4 linked regions of the Homo sapiens genome follow. The protein of the gene in region 2 purifies or fractionates together with the protein of the main gene of each other region. This does not show direct contact. Each region holds a gene or a part of one and is shown on either strand. Other genes may lie near its edges. The genes, in order: TMEM169, ADAMTSL3, HPN and SLC18A2.

Evidence for each region.
Region 1: the proteins of ADAMTSL3 (region 2) and TMEM169 purify together in Homo sapiens (co-immunoprecipitation; one large-scale study listed by IntAct). This does not show direct contact.
Region 3: the proteins of ADAMTSL3 (region 2) and HPN purify together in Homo sapiens (co-immunoprecipitation; one large-scale study listed by IntAct). This does not show direct contact.
Region 4: the proteins of ADAMTSL3 (region 2) and SLC18A2 purify together in Homo sapiens (co-immunoprecipitation; one large-scale study listed by IntAct). This does not show direct contact.

The regions. Positions count from the first base shown.
Region 1 is NC_000002.12:216,087,013-216,094,877, forward strand, and holds part of TMEM169 (transmembrane protein 169), read left to right. Parts: intron 1-7,865.
Region 2 is NC_000015.10:83,980,293-83,988,157, forward strand, and holds part of ADAMTSL3 (ADAMTS-like protein 3 isoform a precursor), read left to right. Parts: intron 1-1,980; coding exon 1,981-3,052; intron 3,053-7,865.
Region 3 is NC_000019.10:35,043,741-35,051,605, reverse strand, and holds part of HPN (serine protease hepsin precursor), read right to left. Parts: intron 2,344-7,865; exon of another isoform or gene 2,317-2,343; coding exon 2,215-2,316; intron 2,132-2,214; coding exon 2,090-2,131; intron 1,161-2,089; coding exon of another isoform or gene 1,085-1,160; intron 1-1,084. UniProt on the Homo sapiens protein: Serine protease that cleaves extracellular substrates, and contributes to the proteolytic processing of growth factors, such as HGF and MST1/HGFL. Plays a role in cell growth and maintenance of cell morphology.
Region 4 is NC_000010.11:117,242,763-117,250,627, reverse strand, and holds part of SLC18A2 (synaptic vesicular amine transporter), read right to left. Parts: intron 6,658-7,865; coding exon 6,315-6,657; intron 1-6,314. UniProt on the Homo sapiens protein: Electrogenic antiporter that exchanges one cationic monoamine with two intravesicular protons across the membrane of secretory and synaptic vesicles.

The sequences.
Region 1 (7,865 bases), on a different chromosome or scaffold from region 2:
GGGTTAGGGTGGGAGGAGAGGACGTGGGGGCTGGGGTAGTCACAGAAGGGGACGTGAGCGAATGAGTCTGTCTTGAGCCAGGCTTGAAAGATGTGGAGAAGCGTGACAAAGATGAAGAAACCAACATAAGCACATGTGTTGAGTAGTCACGTTGCAGGAAAGGGAAGGGGAAAATTGCTACTGAATCCTAGGGTGGGGTGCAAATACGGAGAGCCTCAAACACCAGACAGGCCTTCAGATATATTTTAGTCAGTAATGGCAAGACAAAATAAAAATATTGTTTTGTTTTGTTTATTAATCACCATTAATATGGTAAAAAATGGTAGAGGAATGTCTTCCATTTTAGAATGTCTTCCAGTTTAGAGGAAGTAGTATGAAGGCTGTATTCTGGCATATGGTGGTAGTAGAAATTCAAATGAACAAATTAACAAAAAGATTTCATAGGAATGACTAGCAGGACTTAGAGACTAATTATTATTAGGTATATGGAAATATGTCCTTAATATAGGAAATGGGTTCATCAAAGAACATTCTAGAAGTTTATAGATCTTTGCATAAATGTTGGCGGGTAGTATGGCACAATGAAAATAACATGGGCTTTGAAATTAGCAAACCTGGGTGTCAGTTCCAGTCCCACCACTATACTAGCTATGTAAGCTTGAGCAAATTTCTCCTCTAAATGGGAATAATAAAGGTACCTACTTCACTGGTTTGCTGTGAATATTGAACAATACGATTATTGTAAAGTACTTAGAGCAGCACTTGGCACACAATAAACATCCAATAAGTTTCTGTTGTTACTATTATTCAGTCCAAGTGTCCTCTTCTGCAAAATAATACTTGCTTCATAAAATTGTTGTACCTAGGCTGGTATGGTGGCTCACACCTGTAATCCCAGCACTTTGGGAGGCCGAGGCAGATGGATCACTTGAGGTCAGGAGTTGGAGACTAGCCTGGCCAACATGGTGAAACCCTGTCTGTACTAAAAGTACAAAAATTAATTGCACATGGTGGTGTATGCCTGTGGTCCCAGCTACTCAGGAGGCAGAGGCACGAAAATCGCTTGAACCTGGAGGCTGAGGTTGCAGTGAGCTGACATTGCACAACTGCACTCCAGCCTGGGTGACCAAGCGAGACTCTGTCTCAAAAAAAAAAAAAACAAACAGGCCGGGTGCAGTGGCTCACGCCTGTAATCCCAGCACTTTGGGAGACCGAGGCGGGCAGATCACAAGGTCAGGAGATCGAGACCATCCTGGCTAACACGGTGAAACCCCGTCTCTACTAAAAAAGAAATACAAAAAATTAGCCGGGCGTGGTGGTGGGCGCCTGTAGTCCCAGCTACTCAAGAGGCTGAGGCAGGAGAATGGCGTGAACCCGGGAGGCGGAGCTTGCAGTGGGCTGAGATCACGCCACTACACTCCAGCTTGGGCGACAGAGCGAGACTCCGTCTCAAAACAAACAAACAAACAGACAAAAATTGTTGTACCTAGAACAACTATGCAATATATAGCACATAGTGTTGCTTAATAAATATTTACTGAAGCTGGGCACAGTTGCACATGACTGTAGTCCCAGCTACTCAGGAGGCTGAGGTGAGAGGATTGCTTGAGCCTAGGAGTTCAAGTCAAGCCTGGGCAACATAGAAAGACCCCATCTCTAAAAATAAATGAATACGTAAATATTTTTTGAATGTGTAATTCAGTGAGATAATGCATGTACTGTATAATCAACACAGAACCTACCAAATTACACAATCGGTAAATTCCATAAATGTTGTGGTGTTTCCTTCTTTATCCCTTTCTCCTTTCCTTTCCCCCTTCTCCTTTTTTCTCGGTAACACTGAGAGGTTCTCTGCTGTAAATAAAGATGAGTTTGGTTTGAACATGCTTTGCTAAATAATTCAATTAGAAAATATTCGCCAGGCTATTGGAGATACAATCTTGAGATCTACATTTGGGCGTTCTTGGCATAGAAGTGGTCCTACAGCTGTGTGCAGGAAGGCTGTATATTTTAACAAGAGGAACAGAGTGTGCTGTTGAGAATAGAGGACAATGAATTAAGAATCGGGCCTAGAAAACACTGGCAATTATGGGTTGGAGAAAGCAGATAAGGGAGCAAAAGAAACAGAAGGAAGGTTTGAGAGGTAAAAGAGAATGAGAGTAGAAAGTTAAAGGAGGTGAGGGAAGGTTCAAGAAAGATTTGGGAATTAGTGGAATCAACAGCTTTGGTGTGACAAGGAGAATAAGAATGGTGAAGTGGTCACTGTGATCACATCAGGGACTTTCAAGACTGTTTCTCACCAAAATGAGTGGATCTGTCATCAAATGAAGGAGAAATAGGGTTTTGGACAGCAAACAACAGAACCAAAAAACCAAAAACCATCAGCTGTTCACTGCAGCTACTACCACTTGACTACTTCTATTTTTAATTTTCATTTTATTTTATTTTACTGATTTTATTTTTGAGACAGAGTCTCACTCTCTCGCCCAGACTGGATGCAGTGGCACGATCTCAGCTCACTGCAACCTCCACCTCCCAGGTTCAAGCGATTCTCCTGCCTCAGCCTCCTGAGTAGCTGGGATTACAGGCGTGCACAACCACGCCAAGCTACTTGTATTTTTAGTAGAGACAGGGTTTCACCATGTTGGCCAGGCTGGTCTTGAATTCCTGACCTCAAGTGATCCGCCCATCTTGCCCTTCCAAAATGCTGGGATTACGGGCATGAGCCACCACACCTGGCCTTGACTTCTTCTAAATCTTGGTGGGGAAATCCTGGACTTTAGAGTTATGCAAGTATAGAATTAAACCCAAGTTCTCTCACTGCTATATTTAACGCATTGAACCTAATAGGTCAAGTGTGGAAAATAAGACCTACCTGTCAAGCTTGTTGAGAGATGCAAGTAAGAGAACATCTATAAAGAGTTTACCTTACAGCCTGACACATAAGGCTCAATAAATGCTAATTTCCTGGCCTATTTCTCATCTTTGCAAGTGACTTGCGCGTGTGCGTGCGTGCATGTGTGTGTGTCTGTGTGTGTACAGAGGTTGGGAGTGGGGAGAAAGGGCAGAAGATTGCAGGATGAACTGGATATGAGTGGCTATAAACTATTTGATAGAAAAGCTTGGTTGGAGAAAAATGAGATTATCAGAGAGAGTAAAGTGGCAAGGTAAAGTTATTTTTTTCTAGATAAGGAACTCTGAGTTTGAAGGCAAAGGGGAAAGAGCCAGTAGAAGGAAGTTGGAGCTATTGGAGAAGGAGGAAATCAAAGATGAGGAAGAGATGGGGATCAAGAGTCAAGTTGGGGTGGTCAAAGAAAATACCTGTTTTCAGACCACTCATGCTGGGGAAGGCCAGCCACTGTTGTAAGGACACTCAGATGGCCCATGGAGAGGCCCATGTGGAGAGAAACTGAGTCAGCATTACATGAGTGAACCATCTTGGAAGCAGATCTAGCCTCATTCAAGCCTTCAGATGACTGCAGCCCTGACATCTTTAGAGATCTTGAAACAAAACCAGCTAAGCCACTCTCACACTTCTGACTCAGAGAAACTATTTATAGGAATCCCACAGAAATGTTGAGAAAATTCTATTCACAGAATACTAAAAGGTTCAGAAACCATAAAAACAAAAAAACACTTTTGGACCTCCAAATTCTATAGGCAGGAAGCAGGTAGAGAAGACTACTCACCACCCAGCTAAGGCACTCCCAGTTTATTGACGCACATAATTGTGTGAGATAATAACTTTTTTATTGTTTTAAACCTTTACTTCTTGGGTAATTTGTTACATCACAACAGATAATTCATATTCTTGTACTGTGACATCTGATATATTCCAGACTTGCAGGAAACTAACAGTAAAAAGGATCCCCAAATTTAGGAAAACACTGTTTTTACAGTAGCCTTGATAACAAGTAGCCACCAGAACTAGTTTTAAACATGTTCAATCAACAACTGCCTAAGTGAATACATTTTTGAAAGCCATCATCAGAGTGCCAGACCCTGATTGGCCAAAAGTCAACTCACACTAGTGTGAAAGTCAGCCAAACAGGGACAGAGCCACTCACCTGATTGACTTTCAGAAACAAAGGACTGACTGGATGGGTTAATTTCCAAAAACATGTTTGCTGAGTGTTATGGTATGGTTTGTTTTCCCCCCAAATCCATATGTTGAAATTTCAGCCCCCAAAGTGATGGCATTAGGTGAGGCTTTATGTCATGACGGTGGAGTCCTCAGGAATGGGATTAGTGCCCCCATAAAAGAGACCCAGAGGCTAGGCTCAGTGGCTCACACCTGTAATCCCAGCACTTTGGAAGGCCAAGGCGGGCGGATCATGAGTTTGAGAGCAGCCTGGCCAATATGGCGAAACCCCATCTCTACTAAAAATACAAAAATTAGCTGGGCATGGTGGCGTGTGCCTGTAGTCCCAGCTAATTGGGAGGCTGAGGCAGGAGAATTGCTTGAACTTGGGAGGCAGAGGTTGCAGTGAGCCAAGATTGCGCCACTGCACTCCAGCCTATGCGACAGAGTGAGACTCCATCTCAAAAAAAAAAAAAAAAAAAAAAAGAGAGAGACCCAGAGAGCTAGTCAGCTCCTTCAGCCACGTGAAAACACAGTGAGAAGGCACCATCTATGAACCAGAAAGTGAGTCCTACCAAACCCCTAAACTTGATCTTGGATTTTTTGCTCCCAGAACTGTACAAAATAAATTCTTGTTGTTTATAAGCTACCTAGTCTATGGTATTTTCTTATGGCAGCCCAAATGCACTAAGACACTGAGGGAGATTGTTGTTGATCAATTGAACAGGTTTAAAACTGGTTCTATTGTCTACTTACCATGACTACAAAATAACCCATCTTTTCCTAAGTTTGTGGGAATGTTTTGTAGTCTCAAAGGATAGTGTTCTAATTGTAGGGAGATGAGGAAATCATGTTTCAAGGTAAATCAAGGACAGTGTCTCTGTCCTGTGACTACTGTAAGTAGACATTGGCTGGGCACCTTTCTAAAATGAGCTGTGCCTGAAGCAAAAATAGCCCCCCTAAGGTGAATAGCCAGGAGCTCACCCTTTACATTTCATATTTCTTGTCTAAGGTTTTAATGGGATGTTCAAAAGTCATCTCTCTTTTTGCCTCTGATAGGATTGTCCCTCTCCTCCATCAGCCAACAAGATGACCATGTTTATCTTTTATATCCCCAAGAGACTCCAAAGCTTCTCTTAGCTACTATTTTCTGTACTAGTCTGTCCCTGGGCTCAGGAAGCTCTTCCTGTTATCTAACATTGGCCTCTCCCATTGTGCCCAACCAAATCAAGAGTGTCGAACACTACACCTTTTTATGTTTTTTTTTAATTAAATTAATTCTTTTTTTGAGTGATTCGCCCGCCTTGATCTCCCAAAGTGCTGGGATTACAGGCATGAGCCACCGCACTTGGCCACTTTTTAATGTTTATAAGGCCCATTAATAAGGGTCATCATCTCCATGCATGTGTTCACTTTGCCCTGCCACATCTTCCTAGAGCACCACCCCCTCAACAAAGAGAGAGGAAAAGGGAACAAGAAGTATGAGATTTGCAACTTGCCTTCTCACGTGTACTCTTTAACATTTCTGTCTCCCTTCTGAACATCTTGGTACATCTTTAAAGAAGGAGTAAGGAGTACAGAACATAAACCTTCTCCCAGCTCTGAAGCTCTGGTCCTTTAATCTCCTCGGGGTCTCAACCCCTAGTTTGAAAATTCATGCTGTATAGAAGGGCCAAAGAAGGCCCTTCACAAGCTGCCTCAGAAAACAACAGAGAGAAACAGATGATCTAAGTAGGAAAACACGGTGGATTAGGGTGGCCTCCCAAGCTGTGATCATTGCACCTTCAAGTAAGTACAAAGTGGTTTGTTCAGAGGTCATTCCTACCATAGAATTACCATGATGCAGCTTTCTGAGTGTCAGTGTATAAGAGGACTTGGACCAGGGAAAACATTTTTGTATTAAACATAGACACTTAGAGAGTAGAATTACAAATGTATGTATATACACATTTGTATATAAATATACATATGTATAAGTACATATATAGATATACATATATATGTATATCCTGGAACTTAACGTAATAATGAAGTGTGTGTGTGTGTGTGTGTGTGTGTGTGTGTGTGTGTATACATATAAAATCTTCACCTGGGGGTGGATTGCATTCAGCCTCCCCATTCAGTTTCCTCTGGGTAGAGGTCCACTGTCCTCTGTGTAGAAGCCACTTTGGTAGAAGAGCCCTGGTCAAGCTCATCAATGCCCAAGGCCTGCTCAGCATTCTAATGGTTGGATTAATTGTCCTCTGGAGCTATTTACCTTGGGAGGGCTCTCTCCCCTGCTTCTTCCTGTGTACATCCTTGTACTTTTAGACACCTCAGCCAAATGAATCTCCTGGTCCAGAAAGCTCCATGGATAAGAATTTAAAGATAATGGCTTTCATTCTGCCCCTAGTACACCCCCTAGACAAAGTCAGGCAGTGAGGACGTAGTGAAACCTGCCCATTTCATCCTGTGGATCCTACCACTAAGATTCTCAATTGTGTCGCTGGGTGCCTGATTTATTCCAGGCATTGGGTTAAGTGCCCAGTTATAAAGTTAATTTAGATCCAACATCTGCCAATCCAATGGAAAGACAAAGAAAATCAACAGAGGCTAGAGGAAATACTGGGTGAGAGGGCAGCAGAGGAGAACTCCCCTGCCTGGAGGGGGAGAAAAAGCCATTCCATTGAGCTTAAAATTTACCTAAATTTTAGAAACATTGAAATGAGAAAAAAAAATATGTATTCTGGCATTTTAAGAGATATGCTATACAGTACTTCCTGTCACATGGTAATTACCAAAGATATATAAATTTGCTTCAAAATGAATGGAGCCTAGTGGAATTCTAGAGCCTAGTGGAATTTTTGCTTCTTTCTTCTCTCCACTGCCCCACTCCCATCCACTGGGCCAGAACACTAGACATTGGGAACATTTGAATACACATGAGAGAAGAAGCTTTATTATTGGAAATAAAGGGATGGCAAATGGTGTACATGTGGCAGTAAAATAAGGCTCAGAGAGCACTGAAATACAGTGAGGGATTTGGGAGTTGGGAACAAAAGTAACAGCCAGTAACCTGGAGTTGCTGAAGAGTGTACAGCCTCGAGGAGTGTGGGGCGGCAGGGTTGTGAGTAGAAGCTTGCGATTCTGAATAATATGCACAGTTATTTGAAAAGTGGGGAATTTTTTGGTAAATCGCTTGGAAACTTTTTATATCCATAGCGGGTACCACTATAGTTCATAAGTTATTTTTCACAGTATAAATGCCAATAATATTGCATAACAGCAGGACCATTTGCCTCTTTCACTAGGATTAAAACTGGGTATGTTAAAAGTGCATGAGAGTATTCTAGCTAATAAATGAAGAAGTCAGAGAAATGGAATATCATTTTGTAACCCCCATGATTTAATGGGTATAGTCAATGGCCATTAACGGGCTGTTAACTTCACAAAAAGAGTCAACCAGACATTAGGGGACTTCTAATGGAAGTACAAACACCACCTCTAAAATTGTCCTGCCAAACAAAACAAACCATCAACCAAAAAAATTTCAATGTGAAATTGATCAAGACTTTCTATTTAGCTATCAACTCATAACACAGAGTTCAGAGGAACACACTGTGGGGATGCAATCAGCAAAACCCAGGCTATGAGAATCTGCAAGATAAATGACCCGCTTTCTTTAACAAATAAGTTACCAGGAAAAAAAAATGAAGGACAGATATACAGACCTGCACTGTCCAGAACAGAAAGTGGAGAGACACTGTTATTTTAAGGGGGAAAGTGAAGCCTCTCCACCGCTCTT
Region 2 (7,865 bases):
ATAGTAGGCCTCCAAGACCCTATTCCAGTGCTATGGCCAGACACATTCTGTTGATTGAGCCCTTGCTGTGAAGATTTAGTATTTTGAACACCATCTATATTATCTATAGTAATGGATTGACTATAAATTTACCAGGGAGTCTTCCATACATGTTTTTCAGCTTTTGATTGTTGAACAGTAGAAAGTTCAAAATTGTATTCTAGCCAAATTAGGGGAAATTTACATGGCTTAACTGGCTGGGCCATTTGACATACTTTGTAGATACTCTGTCTCCCAAAAAGTAAAAGTATGTATGTGGCAGTTCATCCAGCTCCACTTAGAGATGATGTGACAGAGCATTTTCAAGCAGAACCCTGGACCCATCCTGAGATCAATAGGCCTGACCTACCAATTGCATCTGTATGGAATTTGTATACAAACAAATTATGTATGTCCTTCACTGAGAACATTCTCTACCACAGAAATTATGGGTTCACCTCCATTGTTTCCCTGAACCTGTTGACACCACGAAACCCCAGTAGGCAGCCAGACTTCAAAGGGCTCATGAGGCGTGCAAGAGGACTTCAGTTATTCTCAGTTCTCAGGGTACCAGTAAACACACTGTAGCCAGCGCCAAGGGCCTGAGAAGGCTATGAAAGAGAAGTCTCAATCTGCTTCTTCTCCCAGCGTGTGCTACAACAAGGAGGACCTGTAACTGGGGTCCCCCAAGGTAAATTAGGTCCCCATTGCATGACCTTCTAAATCCAGAGGTATTCTTGATGTTAGTCCAGTATCTCTTCTGCCACTCACTAGTGCTTCCAAGCCATCCATCCTACACTCCACAATCTGCTCAGGAACCTAAATACATCATCAAAGAGGATCCAGACTTCCACCCATATCACTGTCCTTCTCCCATGCCTACCTCAGAATCACCCCAGAACACATTGAGCCTTCTCTCAGGTGAAACAAGGGAGAGAAATACTTCTCTTGGGGACAGGATCTGAGAAGTATTGTCTTTGGGCCTAGCCCATTAAGAGGAGCCGATCGATGCCCAGGAACAAGTCAAAGCCAACCCCATCTCTGTTCCCTCTTAGTCTTCCCTGCTGTGCATTGGCTGCACCTGCCCTTGTCACCAGATCAGTGGTGGCAGCAGTTATATATGAGAGCTCATTATGTGCCCGCTACTGTGCTGTGCACTTGATATAAACAATCTGACTTAATTTTTACTTCCCTCCCATTGAAAGCACTAACATTATTCACATTTCACAGGTGAGGAAACTGAGGCTCAGAGAGATGAAAGAATTTGTCCAAGTGGCAGAGCTAAGATTCAAACTCAGGTTTATCTGACTTCAAACTGCCTATGCCACCTGTTCTTTTTTGATCACGGCTACCCATTGCTTCTTCAGACCCCCATGCCAATTTAATCGACATATTTGGGTTATATTCTGCAGCTGGCCAACCTCAGCCTCCTTTCAGACCCTTCAAATACATTTGCTCACATTCCCACTCTCACTTCCTCCCTCAGATTTGGGGTACCCATGGCTCTAAGCCAGAGGGCCTCTCTGCCAGATAGTAGAGACCTGACATATCAGACCCTTATTGATGGAAACATGTACCCAGAGGCTGGGTATTTATGGAGCCATTATATGAGCATGGCCTAGAACAAATATTCCTCAAATCTAGAAATAACTATTCCCTACATTTCACCAAATCATTTAACCTCATGCCTCCCCAAACCAGGGTTTTATCAAATCACTTACACATTTTCATGCACCTCATTCACACTTGCATTCTTTGCCACTAAAGTACTAGATAGTTGTGAAATTTACCCCAATCTGTGGATGTATAATGTTATTCATGGTTTTATTCTTGAATGTTTTAAAATAGTAAAAAAGATACGTTTGTTAGCCTGTATCAGCCTTGAAAGATTACTGTCAAAAAGTCTGTATTTTTGAGATGTTTATTCGTATTTTCTTTTCTTTCTTTTTTTTTTTCTTGGAGAAATCAAATCAGAGATGAAGACAAAACTTGGTGAGCAGGGTCCGCAGATCCTCAGTGTCCAGAGAGTCTACATTCAGACAAGGGAAGAGAAGCGTATTAACCTGACCATTGGTAGCAGAGCCTATTTGCTGCCCAACACATCCGTGATTATTAAGTGCCCCGTGCGACGATTCCAGAAATCTCTGATCCAGTGGGAGAAGGATGGCCGTTGCCTGCAGAACTCCAAACGGCTTGGCATCACCAAGTCAGGCTCACTAAAAATCCATGGTCTTGCTGCCCCCGACATCGGCGTGTACCGGTGCATTGCAGGCTCTGCACAGGAAACAGTTGTGCTCAAGCTCATTGGTACTGACAACCGGCTCATCGCACGCCCAGCCCTCAGGGAGCCTATGAGGGAATATCCTGGGATGGACCACAGCGAAGCCAATAGTTTGGGAGTCACATGGCACAAAATGAGGCAAATGTGGAATAACAAAAATGACCTTTATCTGGATGATGACCACATTAGTAACCAGCCTTTCTTGAGAGCTCTGTTAGGCCACTGCAGCAATTCTGCAGGAAGCACCAACTCCTGGGAGTTGAAGAATAAGCAGTTTGAAGCAGCAGTTAAACAAGGAGCATATAGCATGGATACAGCCCAGTTTGATGAGCTGATAAGAAACATGAGTCAGCTCATGGAAACCGGAGAGGTCAGCGATGATCTTGCGTCCCAGCTGATATATCAGCTGGTGGCCGAATTAGCCAAGGCACAGCCAACACACATGCAGTGGCGGGGCATCCAGGAAGAGACACCTCCTGCTGCTCAGCTCAGAGGGGAAACAGGGAGTGTGTCCCAAAGCTCGCATGCAAAAAACTCAGGCAAGCTGACATTCAAGCCGAAAGGACCTGTTCTCATGAGGCAAAGCCAACCTCCCTCAATTTCATTTAATAAAACAATAAATTCCAGGATTGGAAATACAGTATACATTACAAAAAGGACAGAGGTCATCAATATACTGTGTGACCTTATTACCCCCAGTGAGGCCACATATACATGGACCAAGGATGGAACCTTGTTACAGCCCTCAGTAAAGTAAGTAAAATAAAAATGCAGTATTCATTTTTGCACTACCTTCTTAATGGCTATTCCAGTTTTCTTGAAAATATTTTCAAATTCCTCTCCTAAGCATGTGTTTCCAACAGGATTCTTTAGGAAAGAAACTAAAAAATGTTAAGATGTGTTTTTCACATATACGTTGGAATTTTTAAATTCAACCGCCATATCATCCCAATCACTGTCGTAGAGGTGTGATATGACTGGATCCAGCAAGAATAAGTTTAAGCATATATACACTCCCCCTTTACTCAGCACTTGGCATTTAAAAATAAAATCAATATAAGGCCATTTTAAAAGTAAGCTTATTAATAGTAATCCTACATTATGTTGGAACTGCAAATCAGAATTTACAGAGCTCTTCCATGTCTAGGAGATGTGGTATCTTATTTGAGCTCACATCAGCCCCATGAGATTGGCAGGGCAGGGGTTAACCTTTCTGATGAGGTAATTGAGAAGCAGAATCCCATGACTACTTCATGGCCAATCAGAACCAAGGGCCGTATCTCTTGAATACCCACCAGTGGTATTTGAGTATCACACAAATACGTAGCCTTGTCAAAAGCTTGGGTATCTGAAGTAGTTTTCTATTATCATGCAATTTTTAAATGTCATACAATCCAAAAATAAGAATCATAGTGTTTTGAGATGTTCAAAACACAGTATTAAGTCACATATTATTCTGATCTCTATGCCAGTGTAAAAATGTCACATTTCCTTTATTTTACATAACAGATACTAATTTACTTTTGCATTCTTTATTGCCTTCAAATCTTGCTGTTTGTATACAAAGTACTATAGACATTGTGCCTTCTTTTGATTCACATGTAAGAGCTCCAGCTCTACCTTATCTGCCTTTAGAGATCGTTAAGAGACACAAATAACACAGCAGATGTGAAACTGTTTTGCATATCACAAGGTACTTTCAAAATGCAAGTTTTACTTTTATCATGTCCTTTGTGCATTGAGCCTCGTATGTGAAACATCAGAAAAAACTTAGGTAAAATTCAGTTTTTTAAAATAATAAACTATTAGGCTATATCTTAAAAAGGTAGAAAAAATCTAATTTTTGAATTTTTAATGCTAGAACTATGAACACAAGAGTACAATGAAATTTTAGAAGTAGAATAAACCTTAAAACATAGCAGTTCTCAGAGCTTTTGGTTTTAGACTCTTTAAAATTTAAAAATGATTGAGGAGCCTAAAGAGCTTTTGTAAATGTGAGTTGTATCTATTGCTGTTTACCTCACTAGAAATTAAAACCAAGAAACATTGAAAATATCTCCATTAATCTATTTAGAAAAAATAATGGGCCTATAACATGTTCATACAAATAACATATTTTTTGAAAACCCTCCCCCTGCCACCAAAATTACTGATAACAGTGGAATTGCTTTCCATCTTTGCAGATCTCTTTAATGTCTGGTATAATAAAAGAAGACAGCTGGATTCTTTTTCCACATCTGTTGTGAAATGTTGTTTTAGTTAAAGTATATGGAGAAAATAAATGTGTGCTATACAAATGTGTTAGCTGGAAGAGAAAGAATATTTTAATATCTTTTCAGATAATTGTGGATACTCTTTAATTCTACACTAAAACTAGACAAAGGGTCATTTCTCAAAGGTTAGTTGAAATGTGCAATCTGAAACTATATTAATGAAATGTTGGTACTCTGTTTAATGAAATCTGCTGTTTTTTTCTTGCATTTTGAATAGACTTTTTACCCATACAAGATTTTTTAACACCATACATTGGTCATTTGGAAAATATTGGCTCACTGAGTGATACAGGCCTTCCAAATGTTGGTGCATTTCATTATGCAATGTAAAAAAAATACACATTTAAAAAAATCACCGTGTATCTCATAAAAAAAAAAGTCTTTAAGTTTTGGGAAGCTGTCAGACTTACAGTGGTGGATACCAGTTTTCCAAAATTCTAATTTTCACATCAAACCTTTTTCATCATTGGCAACAAATACTGTCAGTTGTGTCATTGAATTGGCCAGCTCATTTAAAAAATATATATATATATATCTACCAAATACCCAACTTTAAATCATAGTGTGGACTTTTTTGTCATAGTTTATTGGTCATTCTTTCAAGTAAAAATCATATTCCATGAAAGAAGCCACCAGTTCTTCAGCATGCAGTGGAAGTGCTTTGTGTGTACTTCCCATTGTGTCGTATGGGATATGAAAAACGTATGGACCCAAGGGTCAAGATTTAGTAAGATTAATACCTTTTACTACTTCATTAAAGACATTTCTTTTTTTTTCTTTTCTTTATTGAGACAGTCTCGCTTTGTCACCCAGGCTGGAGTGCAGTGGTGGCATCTCAGCTTACTGCAACCTCTGCCTCCTCGTTTCAAGTGATTCTCCTGCTTCAGCCTCCCAAGTAACTGGGATTACAGGTGAACACCACCACCCCCAGCTAATTGTATTTTTAGTAGAGATAGGGTTTCACCATGTTGGCCAGGTTGGTCTTGAACTCCTGACCTCAAGTGATCCACCCACCTCGGCCTCCCAAAGTGCTGGGATTACAGGCATGAGTCGCCACGCCTGGCCGTTAAGGACATTCTTAAGGGAAACTGGCATTTTTTTTTTTTCTGCAAGTAAAACATAGTAGTCAAGAATACAGTAATTACTGGTACACTTCAATATCACTGTCTTGGTTCATGCTAAGGTGCCAGCAGTCTTACCAACACTGCCTTTGCACTCTCAGTGCAAAGGTCAATACCGTTTTTAAAAAGGCTAATTAATGGCTTCGTATTATTATAAAACTAGCTTTGACTTCATAGACTTCTGGGGGGTTCATGGACTATGCTTTGAAGACTGCTAACTTGGTTCAATAATCCATTTTATAAATTGTAAGGAAAGAGAGGCTGACAAGGTTGAAGTGATCTGTTGACCTATGGCCATATAAGTACTACAATGATATAGAGGAGCCTGGTCAGTTTAAATAAATATTTATTTGAGTTCATTTTAAATAGATTGACTTGATGGAATGGCGTTAACATAAGTTTATCAGGCTGAGACCCCTGGAGCTTGTATAAAGAAGTTTTGACATGGTACATCCTCCTTAGATGTGTTTCTGCATCCTTTAAAGATCAGCCATTCAAAACAGAAGCAATTTCATATGTCTAATAAAAGGTTTTGTTTTTAATTTTTAAGATAATAAGATCCATTTTCATTTCTATTTTTCCTCCAAAACCTACCCAATTAATTTGTTCAATTTATGTTTAATTCCCTTTACATAACAAATGTTCTCATCTTTAAATATACTTTCTGAATCTTACAAATCTTTTCAGTTGAAGTAATTGAGAAATGGAATTATGTTCCTGAAAGCCTCATTCAATGAGAGAAACTGTGTAGGCATGGAGTACTGTTCGGATGACAATTGAGTAAGAAATCTCAACTAGGAAGAGAAGTTTGTGGGTGTATCAATTAGAGATGGTGCCTATAGAAAGATCAACTTTGTTATTACTTCAAGTTAAGAGTAAGATTACGCAGCAGAGGCCAAGGTCATATGTGTTACAGAATTCAACCTGGTGGTTCTCCAGCCCAAGGACAGATCCAGGCTAGGTACCCAGTGGCCCCACCTGTCATGTAAGGTTCACGCATGCTCAGCTATTTCTGATCTCAATGATTTCTCACTGGACTGTTACCTGAAACCTACAAAACAAAGGCATTATTTGAGAATTCCTAAATCATGCAAACATATATATGAAATAATTTAAGAAAATGATTTAATATGTTTATTTTTCATGTGTAGTCACTGGTTAGACTTTTGCTTTTAACCAACTATTTCTCCTCCATCAGGATTTGACACTGAAAATCTTGCCTTACTAACAGCGAGGTCTGCCATACTCTTGTTGCTCTGAGACACTTTCGCTGTTTTGACTTCTGCCAGCTTTTGTATATTTCTTATGTGTGCTGCAGCAGGGCTTGTATGCTCTTGGTACTATTGCTCTGTGCCATTATTTCATACTATTCTAATCATTCATACATTTAGTCATCAAAGATTTTTGAGAACTTGCTATATAAAAGTCTAAGCAGTGAGTATGCACAGCTGTGAATAAGATTTGGTTCCTGCCCTTGAAAAGATCACAGTCTAGTGGGAAGAAATAGATATTTCATCAAATAAATATATGAACCAGAGAAGAAGGAGCCCAGAGGAGACAGAAGATAACTCTAGGAGTATTGGGGAAAACTTTACAGGGGAAATTACATTTGATCCAGGACTCAGTGGGCGGGTCTGAGTTTGCCAGAAAGGAGGAAGGGCATTTCAAATGAAGTGAACAACATATGCAAAAGCTCACAGTAATGAAAGATCATGGAATGTTCTGGAAACAGTTAAGGTTCATTATGACTGAAGCATAGAGCGAACGACATGAAGTGACAGGAAATAAAGAAGTGGCACAGTTCATTTCATGATGAAACATACAGTATTTAGAGGGCAGAATAGTCCATATTGCTAAGATCTATGAAGTGAGATGGGGCAGGGGAAAAATAGTATATAAACCACTGATCCGGGTGATTTAGAAGCAGATTCAAATTATTAAGAATAAAATAAAATAAAAGAACAAGCACTCTTCCCTTCCTAACAAAGGTTCTTCTCACCTTTAGATATATTTTCTGAATCTCTGAATTATTATCTAATTGGTTAGGCTACACCTGACCAACTCTGATTCTCAAAGCGGTATTTACACACAGGATTTTAGGAATATCAGTAATTGGGAAACCATAATGAACTCATGCAGGTTAGCCCTAATTCTTAACAGCATGGTCCAAAT
Region 3 (7,865 bases), on a different chromosome or scaffold from region 2:
AGCTCCATGACCTGGGGCAAGTCACTCAGCCTTTCTGTGCCTCAGCATCCCCATAGGAAAATGGGTTGTGGTGGTGCACACCTGTAATCCCTGCACTTTGGGAGGCTGATCTGAGAGGACTGCTTTGAGCTCAGGAGTTCAAGATCAGACTGGGCAATGTAGCAAGATCCCATCTCTACTAAAAATTTAAAAAATGAGGTTGGGTGTGGTGGCTCATGCCTGTAGTCCCAGCACTTTGGGAGGCCGAGACGGGTGGATCACCTGAGGTCAGGAGTTTGAGACCATCCTGGCCAACATGGTGAAACCCCGCCTCTACTAAAAATACAAAAATTAGCTGGGTGTGGTGGCACGTGCCTGTAGTCCTAGCTACTCAGGAGGCTGAGGCAGGAGAATCACTTGAACCTGGGAGATGGAGATTGCAGTGAGCCAAGATCGCGCCACAGCACTCCTGCCTGGGCGACACAGCGAGACTCTGGCTCAAAAAGATAAAAATAACAATAATTTGTTATTGACAAAATAATTTTGTGTAGGCATGGTGGCATTAGCCTATAGTCCCAGCTACTCAGAAGGCTGAGATGGGAGGATTGCTTGAGCCCAGGAGATGTAGGTTACAATGAGCTAAGATCGTGTCACTGCACTCCAGCCTGGGCGACAGAGCAAGACCCCATCTCAAAAAAAAAAAAAAAAAAAAGAAAGAAAGAAAGAAAGAAAAAAAAAAGAAAAGAAAAACAACAGGTTGTTGGGAAGACTTAATGAGTTGATATCATAAGGTCCCAAGGCCTTGGCTGGTGCATACAAATGCTAAGTGCTGGTAATGATGATTAATGTTGATGTTGGCTTTTCTTGTCTGGATTTTCATTTCTGATTTTAGTGTGAACTGAATCCTTTATGGAATTAGATGAGGCTCACAGACATGAAAAATACATCCCACCACCCAACTTCCCCTTTTTTCCTGCTGTCCTGCATCAGGGAATGGCAGCTTGAAGTTGGCATTTGGGAAGATTCATTCATTCATCCCACAGTTAGTTTCTTTATCTATTTATTTGTGTGGCCATTCATTCCACATGCCTGCAGACACACTTACAGTGGATAAGTCTAAGAGCTGTTCCTGGCCCCTCGTTCCCCAGCTGCATGTCCTCTCTGGTCCTCATTTTGCACATCTGTAAAATGGAGCTAATTACCAGGGACAGGCGCAGTGGCTCATGCCTGTAATCCCAGCACTTTGGGAGGCCGAGGCGGGTGGATCACAAGGTCAGGAGATAGAGACCGTCCTGGCCAACATGGTGAAATCTCATCTCTACTAAAAATACAAAAAATTAACTGGGCATGGTGGCACACGCCTGTATTCCCAGGTACTTGGGAGGCTGAAGCAGGAGAATCGCTTGAACCTGGGAGGCAGAGGTTGCGGTGAGCTGAGACTGCACCATTGCACTCTAGCCTGGGTGACAGAGCAAGACTTTTTTCTTTTTTAAAACAAACAAACAAAAAAACTACCTCCTAGGAGAGTTAGAAGGGTCCACTGAATTTATATCATGCCTCCCCAACATGTTTTCACCATGCCACGCAGTAAGAAACACATTTTTACATCCTGATGTAGCCCATAGCTCTGTAGTCTGGGGCAAACTGCTGCATTGCTCAAAGCCTCAGTTTCCCCATCTGTAAAACAGGGAGAATAACAGTCCCACCCTCAGAGTGTGGGGATGCAGTGGGATTACATGTATATGGATGCAAAAAAAAAAAAAAACAAACAAAAATTAGCATAACCTTTACTTACTGAGAGATGTACTGTGATAGTCTGTAATCGAATCTATTTCATACTTAAAAAAAAAACATGGTTTTCCAACTCACTAATTTAATTTTATGAGGCACTCATGAGTAATACACTGGTGTCTGAAAAAGTCTGGGTTAGACATGTGGGGTGCTTAGAATAGTGCCTGGTACATAGCAGGCACTCAATACAAATGCACTATTATGATTAGCATTTCTGCATGCATTTGTGCATTTATTCAACAAATACGCTTGTTGAGCTCCCGCCAGATACACGTGTCCTCCAGGGCTCCCCCAGAGGGTCCCAGCCTGCTCCACTCACCTGGGTACAGCGGCTCCTGGTCACTCCTGAGGAGAACAGCCACTGCAGAGAAGGGAGGGGTGAGGGCAGGCAGGCTGGAGGCTGCAGGGGCCAGGGGAGGTCAGAGGCACAGGAACCGCTCTCACCAATGGCCCAGGATGCCGCCCCGATGGCTGTCAGAAGTAGCAGGGTCCCCGCAGTGAGAGCTGCCACCTTGGGTCTGGAGCAGCATGGCACAGTCCGGCCACCTGCAACAGACACCATGCTGGGGCCACAGCCAGGCCTGTCCTCATTGCGGCAGGGTCTGGGCCCGAGGCCAGCTCTGCCCTGCCCCCAGGGCTAACTTATTATGCCCAAGCATGTCCTCCCCAGGCCCAGTTTCCCGGGGCCAGCAGTTGACAGGGCTGTTCCTCCCCTGCCGTGTGAACAACCAGGTGCCCAGCTCCCCCAGGGTTCCAGCTGGGAGGGGGGCATGGCCGGGCCACCTGCCACGGTCTCCACCTCCGCCCTGCACTTTCCTGGCACTTAGGGAATGTCTCCTCCCCAGTGACACTGTGCTTTTGTATTTCTGTCTTTGCTTTGGGCCATCTCTTCTTGGGACTGTGACCCCCAACCTTTGCCCTCTTGGTAGCTCTCTTCCCTGCCGCTGGCATTTCCTCGCTGCCTCAGTCGTTTCTGCTGTTCTAGATGCTTTGCCCCTAGATACCCCCTAAATCAGACCTCTCTCATGGTACCCAGTTGCAAGATCAAATTTGCCCCTCCACTTGAAAATCTGCCAGCCTCATTTTATTTTATGTATTAATTTTTTTAGCGACGTGGTCTTGCTATGTTGCCCAGGCTGGTCTCAAACTCCTGGGCTGAAGCGATCTTCCTTCCTCAGCCTCCCAAAATGCTGAGATTACAGGAGTGAGCCACTGCGTCTGGCCAGCCTCATTTAAAAATATTGACCCTACCCCTTCCTAGCTGGAACCTAAGGCAGGTGCCATCATATCTTTGAGCCTCAACTTTCTTATCTATTAAATGGGCATCCACTGAGCACCTACTTCTAAAAATAATAATTTAAAGTTATTTTCAAGAAGAAGAAGAATAGCTCAAATTGTATTGATGCCTCCAGGTGCTAAGCACCGTTCTAAATACATCAGCTCATTTAGTCCTTATTTCAATCCCACAACTATGATTCCTGTTTTTGAGATAGCTCAGAGAAGTGGGGTCACGTGCCCACAGTGACAGCCTGGAAGAGGCAGAGCAGCGTCCAGAACCCTGGGCAGGTTTGATGCCAGGTCCCCTGTGTACAGCCACGAAGCCATCCTGGCTCTCACTGTGCGGAAGTGCCTGGCACATAGCAAGTTCTCTATAAATGCTTTATAAATCATCAGAGATGTGTGGGCCTGAGCAACTCCCCTCCCCTCTCTGAGCCTCAGCCTCAGTTTTTTTCTTTTCCTTCCTTCCTTCCTTTTCTTTCTTTCTTTCTTTCTTTCTTTCTTTCTTTCTTTCTTTCTTTCTTTCTTTTTCTCTCTCTCTCTCTTTCTTTTTCTTTTTTTTTTTTTTGAGACAGGGTTTCACTGTGCTGCCCAGGCTGGAGTGCAGCGGCGCGATCATGGCACACTGCAGTCTCAAGCGCTCAGGCTCAGGTAATTCTGAGCCTCCCGAGTAGCTGGGATTATAGGCGCACACCACCACACATGGCTAATTTTTGTATTTTTTGTATTGACGGGGTTTGCCATGTTGACCAGGCTGGTCGTGAACTCCCAGACTCAAGTTATCTGCTTGTCTCAGCCTCCCAAACAAAGTGTTGGAATTGCAGGCGTGAGCCACCGCGCCTGACCCTCAGTTTTTTCATCAGCCTAAAGAAGCTTTATTTGTTTACCATCCTACTGAACATCCGCTGTGTGCCTGGCACCTTTCTAGGTTCCGGGAACATAACCCAAAGAAGACAGATAAGGTTACGACTCTCAGGGGTTCACGTTCTCATGCGTGTAGGTGGGGAGTGGGAGACATTAACAAGGAAACAAGTAAATGAACCCAATAATTTCCAGATTGTGGCAGAGGCTGTGAAGAAAACCGTGCAGGCTGGGGCAGCAGGTGGGCTTCTGCAGGGGATCAGGGATCACAGGGCCTCCCCTAGAGGAGACTTCTGAGCTAAGCTCTGAAAGGTGAGGTGCCAGCCACACACAGACCACAAGGAAGGGCACTGTGGGCAGAGGGAACAGCACAGGCAAAGGCCTTGAGGCAAGAATAAGCAGGCTCTCTTATGTCAGAGGCTGGAGAGGCCATCGAGATGGCCAGATGGCCAGAGCTTGGGGAAGGTAGTGGGAACCAAGGCTGGGGCCAGCTGGGGAGGCCTGGTGGCACAGGAAAAGGGATTTTATTCCCAGGGCAAAGAGGTCCTGGAGATTAAAAGCCAACTCCTAGCCGGGCTCGGTGGCTCACGCCTGTAATCCCAGCACTTTGGGAGGCCGAGGTGGGCAGATCACGAGGTCAGGAGATCGAGACCATCCTGGCTAACACGGTGAAACCCCGTCTCTACTAAGAATACAAAAAATTAGCCGGGCGCAGTGGCAGGCACCTGTAATCCCAGCTACTCGGGAGGCTGAGGCAGGAGAATGGCTTGAACCCGGGAGGCAGAGCTTGCAGTGAGCCGAGATCGCGCCACTGCACTTCAGCTTGGGCGACAGAGCGAGACTCTGTCTCAAAAAATAAATAAATAAATAAATACATAAATAAATAAAAGCCAACCCCTTCACTAGGGATTATAAGAAGGCCAAAGAGTAAAGGCTGCTGAAAGCCTTCAGCTGGGCCTGGCTTGGGTTCAACTGCCCTTGGCAGCCGCAAAGCACCCCAAGGTGGCAGGAGCTCCCAGCTCGCCCATCTGCACCCATGGTGATGTGGCTGGTGAACCCGGCACCAGGCCAGCACCTGGAACAGAGCAGGGAGTGGTCTAGGACCTTCCTGGTGTGGCCATTATCTGGGTGTCTTAAGAATTTGAGAGCTCAGGCTGGGCATGGTGGCTCATGCCTGTAATCCCGGTCCTTTGGGAGGCTGAGGCAGGTGGATCACTTGAGGTCAGGAGCTCAAGACCAGCCTGGCCAACATGGTGAAACCCCGCCTCTACTAAAAATACAAAAATTAGCTGGGTGTGGTGGCGGGCGCCTATAGTCCCAGCTACTCGGGAAGCTGAGGCAGGAGAATCGCTTGAACCCGGGAGGTGGAGGTTGCAGTGAATCAAGATTGCGCCACTGTACTCTAGCCTGGGCAACAGAGCGAGACTCTGTATTAAAAAAAAAAAAAAATTGAAAGCTCAGTGGCTCCCATCAAGGCATGAGGAAACACTCTCTTCCCCAAAAGAGGCCCCAGTGGGCCAGACCAGCCCAACTACTGCCGGCTGACCCCTGCCTGTCCTGCGAGGGGTTCTCAGGCCTGCCCCCCAACTCTGCCCAGGACCACTCTCCAGGTTCCAGCAGGAGGTCTTGGCTCCCGACAGCCACTGGGCTGGTCTTGCTTGCTTTGTTTTCAGCTGTGCCTGCCAGGGCTCTAGGCCATGCAGAATGCAGCCTAGAGGCCTTGGCACATCTGGTGGGACAGGAAGCAATGCCACTATGTATGTGTCTCCTAGGGTGAGAGGAAGAACCTCCTTCCATGCTGTGTGGTTCAGAGGACTTCAGCGCCTCCAGTGGGACAGGAAGCATCTGCATCCTGGGGTTCCCCCAGTATGAGAGGCATCCTCCCTGCATGTCTCTACTGGGACAGGCAGCATCCTCATCTGGCCCACGGTGTGGGACGCATCCTCATCCTCCCTGCGTGTCTCTACTGGGACAGGCAGCATCCTCATCTGGCCCAGGGTGTGGGACGCATCCTCATCCTCCCTGCGTGTCTCTACTGGGACAGGCGGCACGTCAACATCAATTCTTTGATCCCAGCAGCAGGGCTATTTCCCTTGGTAAGCCAGACCTCCCCCACCCCTACATCTCCCTGAGACTCTCTGCCCCTGCTTCTCCAGGCCCCTCTGGATGCCTTGGGTCTTCTCATAGGTCAGTTCTTCCGCCTCCACCATTTGGCTGCAAAGACCCCCACGCGTAACACCTTTGGCTCTCTGGCTCTGAAAATCCACTCAACTGGTGGCTCCGTGTCTCGGGCCTCATCTTACATGACTGCAGCTTCCTGTATAAATGCTCTCCTCTTTGGACTTCTGGGACACCAGGCGCACCTGATTTTCCTTCCCGCCTCTGAGGCTGCTGTCTTCACCCACCCTCTACCTACTCCGTAAAATCCAGAGTTTGTAGGGCTGGCCGCAGCCTCCCCCTGCTCCTCCTTGCCCCTAAGTCTGTCTCACCCACCTCTGTGGACTCAGTTTCCCCTCTGTCCCCAGCCCTAGACCCTCTTCCAGGTCCCAGGTCAGGGCTCCTGCAGTCCTTTAAATACCTTTTAAATACCTTTCCCTGGGACCTCCTAGTCCCTTTGCCCCTACCAGGTCCCAGAATGTCTCCCCAATGTCTCCCCAAGTATATTCTTCCTCCCGGTCCTGTCTCAGAGGCCCTCACTCCTAGGACCATCCCCATCTGCATAACATTCCCCTCCCCCGACAGCCTGCCAATCCTCCTGAGTGACTCTCCTTCCCCCGTTTCCTTCTTTCTCTCCATCTGCACCTTGCTCCGGCCCCATCCAACCGCTGGGCTCAGTCTCCCTTCTAGCGCACCCTCCACACGGAGGCTTGGGGAACCTACTGAGACACCAAATCCAACCTGTCCCCTCTTTACCTATAGAACCCTCTGTGACTCCCTAGTACCCCCCAGACAGCTTAAGTCCCTCAGCCTGGCATTTCCAGCCCCACTAGGGTATAAGCATGGCTTTCAGAGATTTGGGAGTATGTTTCCCCCAATTCTCAGACAACCATGTGGGTCACTATCAGGTACCAGAGAGAGCTTCCAAAAAGCAACCCAAACAGTAGAACTTGTAAAATACAAGTTAGACAAGAGAAGCAGGGACTAACCACTGGCGCCACCTTGTGGAGAGACCTGGTACTGCAAGGAATTGGCCAGCTCTTCCCCAAAACAGTCCCACCCCTGCCTGGTCCAGCTTGCACACCTCTTCTCCCACCCAGCTCAACTTCCAGCTTCACCTCCAGAAATACCACAATTGGCTACGTGCACACCAGTGCTGTGTCACCTCCCAGCTTCCCAGAGAAGAGCAAGAGCCTTGCTCTTCCCTCTGCCTGGCATCCTTGGAATTGCAACTCCAGTATCACCTCCTCCAATTCCAAGTTTCCAGGCAGCACCAAGAAGCCAGCAGCAATAACAGTGACACCAACAACAGCAGCCGCTGCAGCCACAACGGCTCTCTGAATCACACACGGACGCACCGCCCTACCCTAACCCCGTCCAGTCCTGCACAGCATCCTTACTTAAATCCTTGCAGCTGTTCACGAGGAAGGCGCCATTGCCATCACCCCCAGTTTACAGATGAGAAAAGGAGGCCCAAAGTCCGGCAGCCACCAAACCCGGGTCACCCGGCAAGTAAGTGCAGAATCGGAACCCTTCAGCATCTGTGTCCAGGTTCGACCTCCACACCCCTAGCCCTGACAGCAGGACTCCCCTCCAAGACCAGCCCGGAGCTGCCAGGGAGGCACCAGAGCCCACTTTGTGTCTGTTTCTCTTTGTACCCAGGCCATCTCTGTCCATTCGGGCATTTTCTGCTTTTCTTCCCTGGCTCATTCACCCATGGGCCCAAGCCCTGGGGCTGTCCTTCCGGCAGCTCCAGGAAAGAGATTGTCCCCAAGGAGCTGGATTCTGTCATCCACCTG
Region 4 (7,865 bases), on a different chromosome or scaffold from region 2:
ACCTGGGTGGGGACGCTGGAGCACATGGGATGGAGAGTGCACAGTTTCACTGAAAACCACAGCGTTTGTGCCTACAGAGGGTTCTTTTTACCATTTGAGGTACTGTGTTTTCTTTAGAAACACTGCAGCTACTGTTTTTCTTTTTAATTTTCTTTGGGATTTTAACAATGCACGTATGGAATAAACGAATATCACAGCTAGAAGGAAACTCAAGGGCTAGCCAGTCCAAACCCTCACCTTAGATGAGAAAGCTGAGGTTCAGAGACAGAGTGGCTCACCCATGGCTGCAGAGCAAGCCAATGGCTTCAGATACAACCAGGCTCATGTTGCCGCCTCCTCAGTACCGGACACACCTGTGCCTGCACTTTCAACACAGGCCAAGCCACTGCATGGGCTGCTCAGTGGTAAGCGCTGGGCATCATTTTTCCCCAGAGCTCGGCTTCAAGGCAAAGAAGACTCCCTGGGAAGCTCCTGGGTCTCCGTTCTCAAACTCTTCTGGCCCCTCGGGCACCCACCATAGAAGGAGAGTCGTCCAGCGTCCCTAGTCATTGAGTGGTGGGCAGAAGGACCAAACCCTTTCTGCTTCCCCACAGTATCTCCTAAACAGACAGAAACTCAACTGACATTAGTCACAATCTGTGTCTGAGTTGCCCCCCTTGTCTCAATTCAGGGCCTTCTCAATTAAAGTATTGCTAAGCAGAGCCAGATCTGATTCAGCAAACCTTTAGCCAAATGTCATACTGGCCCACGGTCATCCTCTACAGAGCATCACGAAGCAGTTAATCCAATTTGAGTAAGACTAAAAATCACATAATGAATCCCTAGAAAAACATGTAAAACAATAAAAGTTATGTTAATTATATATACTTAGTCATTGGAGAAACCCCATCTGTCCCTAAATGGTCAATGAAGACAATACTTCTCTAGTGTTAATAATTAGCTTATCCTTGCCATAGAGACTAATGGAAGCTCTCTTCTCATGATTGCTAAAACCACAGTTTCCTCTACCGTGGTAAATTACAAGAAGCATACAGACTACAGAGCCCCGAAGGGTGCAAACTATCACCAGATGCAACGAGAGACAACAGCTCCCTTCCAGTGATCCCTACACACTCCTAAAAGGTGTGCAGTAAATGAATGTCAGTAAATGGAATGATATTTTCAATTTGCCTGGATATAGTAGGAGGTTTGTCAATCATTTAGTAAATAAAATTCTTCGATTCCGCTTGTCAAAATTCTTAGGTTCTGCTTGTCTTTTTCAGCTACCAGAGAATTCCAGGGGGCACGGACTTCTCACTTTCCTGGGCGTGAGCCCTGTTCTCTGACACATAGCTTAACAGAGCTTTTGCTTCTCCTAGGAATGTTCTAATTCCACAGCCAGTTTCCTCTGATTTCAGAAGCAAAGACTCATCAAGCCCTCCCTACCATCCTAACCACATGCAGGATGGGAGATCTCTTCTCAGAACAGCCGGTTTCCCTGTCCATAGAGAAGCTGAAAAGGTCACTGCTTGTTCCTACACAGCCCACTTCAGACCCACTGGCTGAAGCTAGCAAAAAAATAAAATAAAACCATGGTAGATTTCGTAGAGATTTCATGCCCTGTGGCTTCCTCCTTGTCGTTCAGATGTTAGCTAAGATTTGCAAGCAAAAAGAACTGCTTTCAAATATACTAAGTAACTATGGAAATAAATTAAGCCATTGACGCTGGCTTGATAAAAAGCAGATCACTGAGACAATGACAAGCTAAGAAGGAAGCAAGGGAAACGGTCCCCAGCAATGAAGTTAACTCTTTCCCAAGCCAGTCGTTTGGTGTGGAATATCTTTTGGTTCTGAAGATGCAACTATTATTTCAACCTTATGCTAAGCAAGACCACAATGCCATATCGTTACCTGACTGAGGGAAGAGAGAAATGTAAACGTGTTGTCCCATTGTTCATGTGCCTGGAACTTTCCTCTTATGGACATATATATCTAAAATTTGCTTCTTAGACCAAATGATGACCAAGTATCACTAGTATAATTTCTGGTACCACCTGCACACAACTGCAATCATGAAATGAATAGTTCAGCCAAAATTATAAAATAGGAGGCAAGAGGTTCCAACATGGAAATCAGGTCAATCCAGCAACCTCAGGCTTTCTTGGAAAGTGTGCTATTGGCCAGGTCATCACTACACACACCCAAATCAAAGGTTTTTGCCACCTAACTGGTCATATATTTTCAGCAGAAATACAGGATCTGAATAACAAATGAAACAGGAAGAATGTGCATCCTATTAGCAGTTAAATGAACCCAAGAATTGTTACTCTATATTTTCAGGGTTTGGTGTGAGAACTTATCGAATATTTAAAAAAAACAGACAGGGCCGGGCATGGTGGCTCACGCCTGTAATCCCAGCACTTTGAGAGGCTGAGGCAGGAGGATCACTTGAGGTCAGGAGTTCGAGATCAGCCTGGCCAAATGCTGAAACCCCATCTCTACTAAAATACAAAAAAAATTAGCCAGGCATGGTGGCATGTAGTCTCAGCTACTCAGGAGGCTGAGGCAGGAGAATTGCTTGAACCTGGGAGGTAGAGGTTGCAGTGAGCCGAGATAGCCCCACTGCACTCCAGCCTGGGCAATAGAGCAAGACCCTGTCTAAATAAATAAATAAATAAACAGGCGGCCTACATTTTGTGACTCCTACCCACAAAAGCCACACACATGGCACCATCACGACTGTGAATAGAGGATTCCAGTTATGGTGTGGTGTGGTGTAGAATGTCTCGATTCAGAGTGGGTCCCACTTCAGTTAAAACAAGCAGCTTTGGAAAAGAATAGCTCTGCCCAGCCTGACTACAGGAAGCTTTCCCCACACATCTTTAGGGATGCACGAGGCTGGACCAGTTCACATCAGGGACTGGAAAAAGACTGAATATTTCAGGGACCAGGGAGGTTCCATGTCCACAGGAATCAGGCTGATCTTTTCTAAACTCTCTGCTCATTGATTAAAAGTAGCAAAATCAGCAACTCACTGGGTCTCCAGCAGTTCTGCCTGGTACAACCAGGAAGAGCCCAAGTCAGTGCAAGAAAGACAGATTTTGAGCTGCATTCTTTATTTCTAGTAGCTAAAGGTACAAGCTGTATAATTGTAAGCAGGTGGGAAGAACAGGAAGCGGGGAAGAACAAAGCTTGAAATGGGACAGTCGGAACATGTGGCTACAGTCCTGCCACTGTTGTGGTAAATGCTTTCTCCTCCTGAACTGCAAACTCCTTTGCCTATAAAATGCTAGGACTGGCCCAAAAGCTTTCAGGAAAAGTCTCTGCAAGCTCTGATGCTCCATATTTTTAACTACTCTTTAATCAGAAACATATTAACCAATTTTAAAAAGCCTTTAAACACATTTGTTTACAACACTGAAGACTTGAGTCATACATCTTGCTCATGGAGGATGTGATTGGCACAGTTTACATCAAAAGACTGTTTGCAATGGCTCACAAGTTAACTCCTTGAAGACAATTAAAGGCAAATGGAATGCACATTTGTCCCTTCTCTGAATCCATCTGAACTGCGGTGGGAAGCAGAATCTTGGAGTGTCCAGAAGAGCTGCCCAGTCCCCAAATTCATATCTACTGGGCTTGGAAATTATGAGACAAATTACAAATCAGGATCACAATATGAAAATTTATTTGCTCGCTGAGGGCGGTGGCTCACGCCTGTAATCCCAGCACTTTGGGAGGCCGAGGTGGGCAGATCACCTGAGGTCAGGAGTTCGACACCAGCTTGGCCAACATGGTGAAACCTCGTCTCTACCAAAAAATACAAAAAATAGCCAGGCATAGTGGTGCACGCCTGTAATCCCAGCTACTGAGGAGACTGAGACATGTGAATTGCTTGAACCCAGGAGGTGGAGGTTGCAGTGAGCCAAGATCACACTGCTGCACTCCAGCCTGGGTGACAGAGCAAGACTCTATCTCAAAAAAAAAGAAAAAAAAATTTGTTTGTCCTTCCATATTACCAGGCAGCACTAGAAAATCATTTTCAAATTTGCTCGGTAGCTGGACAAAACAGTTGGGGATTACAATTTTGCTCTAGATAATTTCTAAAGTGGATTACTCACCATGAGAATAGACTAAATTTCACAAGTCACAAAATGGAAGATAATGTTTTTGAAGTCCCAAACATGAGCCTGGTGTGGCTACAGCCTCAAAGCCGTTGGAGTATTTAACAGGGGAAAGAGCTCACTGGTTTTAAACAAGCCTCTTCCCCATGGCATAAGCAAAGCATTAAAAATAAGAATGGGATTTTTAAAAAAGCTTTTCATTTGCCATTTGCGTTTGGAAGATTGGAGTACTCACATCATTTCAGCCGAATTTCTAAGTATTACACTGTACGGCTAGTAACGTTCCACCCAAGTGATTGGCAAGGTATTATTACGATAATGTCCTCAATTTTCACATACAATATTTGAGCTGTTTGCTTTCTCAGAATACAAAACCCTGAGCTATTTTCTGTAATTATACCAGATGCATTTTAAGAAGCATTCTTAGTCTTGAAAAAAGGAAAGAAAACAATCCTGCAACTACTGAGGTCGGTTTGGTTTTTCTCCTGAGAACAGAGGAGTCACTGAATGTCACCTTCTTAATGGGCTCACAGTCAGCCCTTCGCTGGGTTAATTTGCTTAGCATGTTTTATGTAGCAGCCTTAGAATATTGCTCTGCACAGACTAGAGGGCTGGACATGGCTTGAGATTGTTGAAATCAATTCAATGGCACCCTTCCATCCAGAAAATTCAACTGCAGATGTTGAGAATGTGCTCCTGTCCGACTCAAGCTCCATGTGTCCAAGGCAGCTTGTGCTGGCGGAAGGCCAGATCTGCCATCCCCTCCTTGAGCCCCAGCCACCACCCCAGGCTTCCTCACCTCTCGGTGCCCCTAACCCTAGAGTCGCACAGGGCTCTGCTCTCAGAGCTTGGTTGATTTAATGCTCTGCTGCCACCTTGAAGTGTTTCATAATGTTTGAATGTGGGGCACACATTTTCATTTTGCACCGAGACCCACAAATTATGCAGCCAGTCCTGCGCCCCACTCCCCACGCCAAAGGCAGAGGAAATGTGAAGTTCTCCCTGCTCCCTGCCCACCTACCCTGCTTAAAATAGTGCTTGATTCACTCATTTCTTTTTGGCTTTGGAATTTCTAATGGCTCCCAACTGCCCCACACAGAATCCCACTCCTTTCTCAGCCCAGCACTTGGGGCCTCTTACAGCCTAGCCCAGCCCTGGTTTCCCCTGCCTCCTTAGTTCCACCCTCTCCTCGCCACCATCTCTTCCATCTCTAGTCTAGTCTTTGTTCCTGCTTCTGGGCCTGGTCTGCAGGTAGGACTCTGGGCACACCCCTCCCCACCATTTCTGGTGTTTTGTAACTTTCACCTAGGTAGCTACACTGCGCACTTGGCAGCCCACCACCAACACTTAACTGTACCAGCTCCCACTCCTTGCACTGACACCTTGGGGGCCTGCCTCCTCCTCTCAGCTGCAAGGCCCTTGTCCTGAGCTTTGAGCCCCCACGGACCAGGCAGAACTGGTCCACCTCAGCTACAGAAGAACAAACACTTCACCAACAATGGAGAAGTAAACAGTTATTCCAAACAATGTGGGTTCAAAAAAATCTAGAACAGCCTGATTCATCTGAAGCTAGTTTGGGCAGCTTGGATTATCCAGACAACAGCCTCAGTTCTCTTCCTTTCATGCACGTGGACGTGGCTACGTAGCCAGCAGAAGGGAAGAACACAGCCCATGACCTCGGCATCAACTCGGAGCTCCATCTGCGCACCAGTGCGTCCAACCTTTTCCCACACTCCCTACCTGGTATCTGTGAGAGGCTTTAACATGCCAGTTCCAAAAGAAGACACCTTGGCTCTCTACAGAGAAGTGCATGGCCTGAGGTAGGAGATAAGAGGAGGCCACATGGCTCATAAAATAGGATGACAGCCATGGTGGCTGTAGAGTTCCTGCTGCCAAGGGCGATTCTGACAAATGCACTTACGAAACCTGGCATTTAGACAGGCCAAAGTCCTCCCACTTGGTGGAAGAGGTCCTCTTTATTCTGTCTTCTTTAATATTTTCTTACTTGTTGAGCAACAGAAGGGAGAATAGAATAGGAAATTGTGGTTATCTGGGAACAGAGACATAGGGGAAGGGGACTGGGTTTTCCCCAGCTCACCCACCATGGATTTTCCAGACTCTCACCAATGAGTAAGAAGCAGAATTCCAGGAAGGACATAAGCTAGGACTGATACAAATATCAAACTCTTTGACTAAAGTAGTCTGCCCTACCTGTTGGTCAGTAGTCCTATGAAAGGGTTGGTGATGAGCTGGACGGTGGCTTTCGAGGCAAACAACAGACCAACTTGCACGTTTTCATTCAGGAGGTCTTTGTCTTCACTGGGACAGTCGGAAGGAACAGCGGACGCGTTGGTCACCATGTGCTGTGTGGCGGTCTGATGAAGTGTCAGGTCTCTGGTAGCATTCCCGGTGACCATAGTCGAGTTATCATAATAGGAGAAGATGCTCTGGAAGCTGTCTGAGATGGAGGCAGTGTGCACTGGCCTGGCCGTCTGGATTTCTGTAGCATTCTTCTCATGCTTAATGCTGTACAGATAACTTGGGATGATGGGGACTGGGGATAAGAGCAGAATGGCAAGGTGGTGATCACACTGAAACCCTCTCCAGGAAAAAAGCCAGCAAAAAACTATGGTTGTGTCGGCAGGGAGCAGTGGCTCACACCTGTAATTCCAGGACTTTGGGAAGCTGAGGCAGGTGGATCACCTGAGGTCAGGAGTTCGAGACCAGGCTGGCCAACATGGAGAAACCCTCTCTCTACTAAAAATACAAAAATTAGCTGGGCGTGGTGGCACCCACCTGTAATCCCAGCTCCTTTGGAGGCTGAGAAAGGAGGATCGCTTGAACCTGGGAGGTGGAAGTTGCAGTGAGCAAAGATTGCACCACTGCACTCCAGCCTGGGTGACAGAGTGAGACTCTGTCTCAAACAAACAAAACAACAATAACAACAACAAAACTATGGTTGTGTCAAATGCCAGAAGAGGTCCAGAGGGTGACAGGTCTACCCCAAAACAGGAGCCCTGTGCCATATGTCTATAACGACATTGGAGCAAGTTCACTTTACTTAGCTCACTAGAAAGAACCATGCCCCCAACGGCCCTGAGAACTGTCTCCTCTCAAAAGGCAGCTGCTGTGCTGAACTGACTGGTCCCAGAGATTCTGTCATTTGTGGGTTTCTTCCACATTGTTCCTTCAAGGAATATTTCAGAAAAGCAAAATGTGGCCTGACGTTAAGAGAGTGCTGACCTGGAGTCAACCAGTGCTTCTAAGAAAGAGAGGCTCAAAAGACTTTCAAATGAATGAATCAAGGAAACAGAAAACTACACTTCATTATGTGTCTTAGAAAAAAATTAACCTGCAGGAAGTAATAACTTGGAAATTCTGCAACAGGCCCACTTCATCCTTCTATTATGAGTGGGAATCTGTAATTTTTCCTACAACTTGTAAGATTTAAGAATTCCTAAGGCTTTCACAAGGAAAAAGCAAAACTGAAACAGGCCAGGCACGGTGGCTCAGGCCTGTAATCCCAGCATTTTGGGAGGTCGAGGCGGGTAGATCACCTGAGGTCAGGAGTTCAAGACCAGCCTGGCCAACATGGCAAAATCCTGTCTCTAATAAAAATACAAAAATTAGCCAGCTTTGGTGGGGCATGCCGGTAACCCAGCTACTCGGGAGGCTAATGCAGGAGAATCACTTGAACCCGGGAGGTGGAGGTTGCAGTGAGCCAAGACTGTGCCACTGCCCTCCAGCCTGGGCAACAGAGTG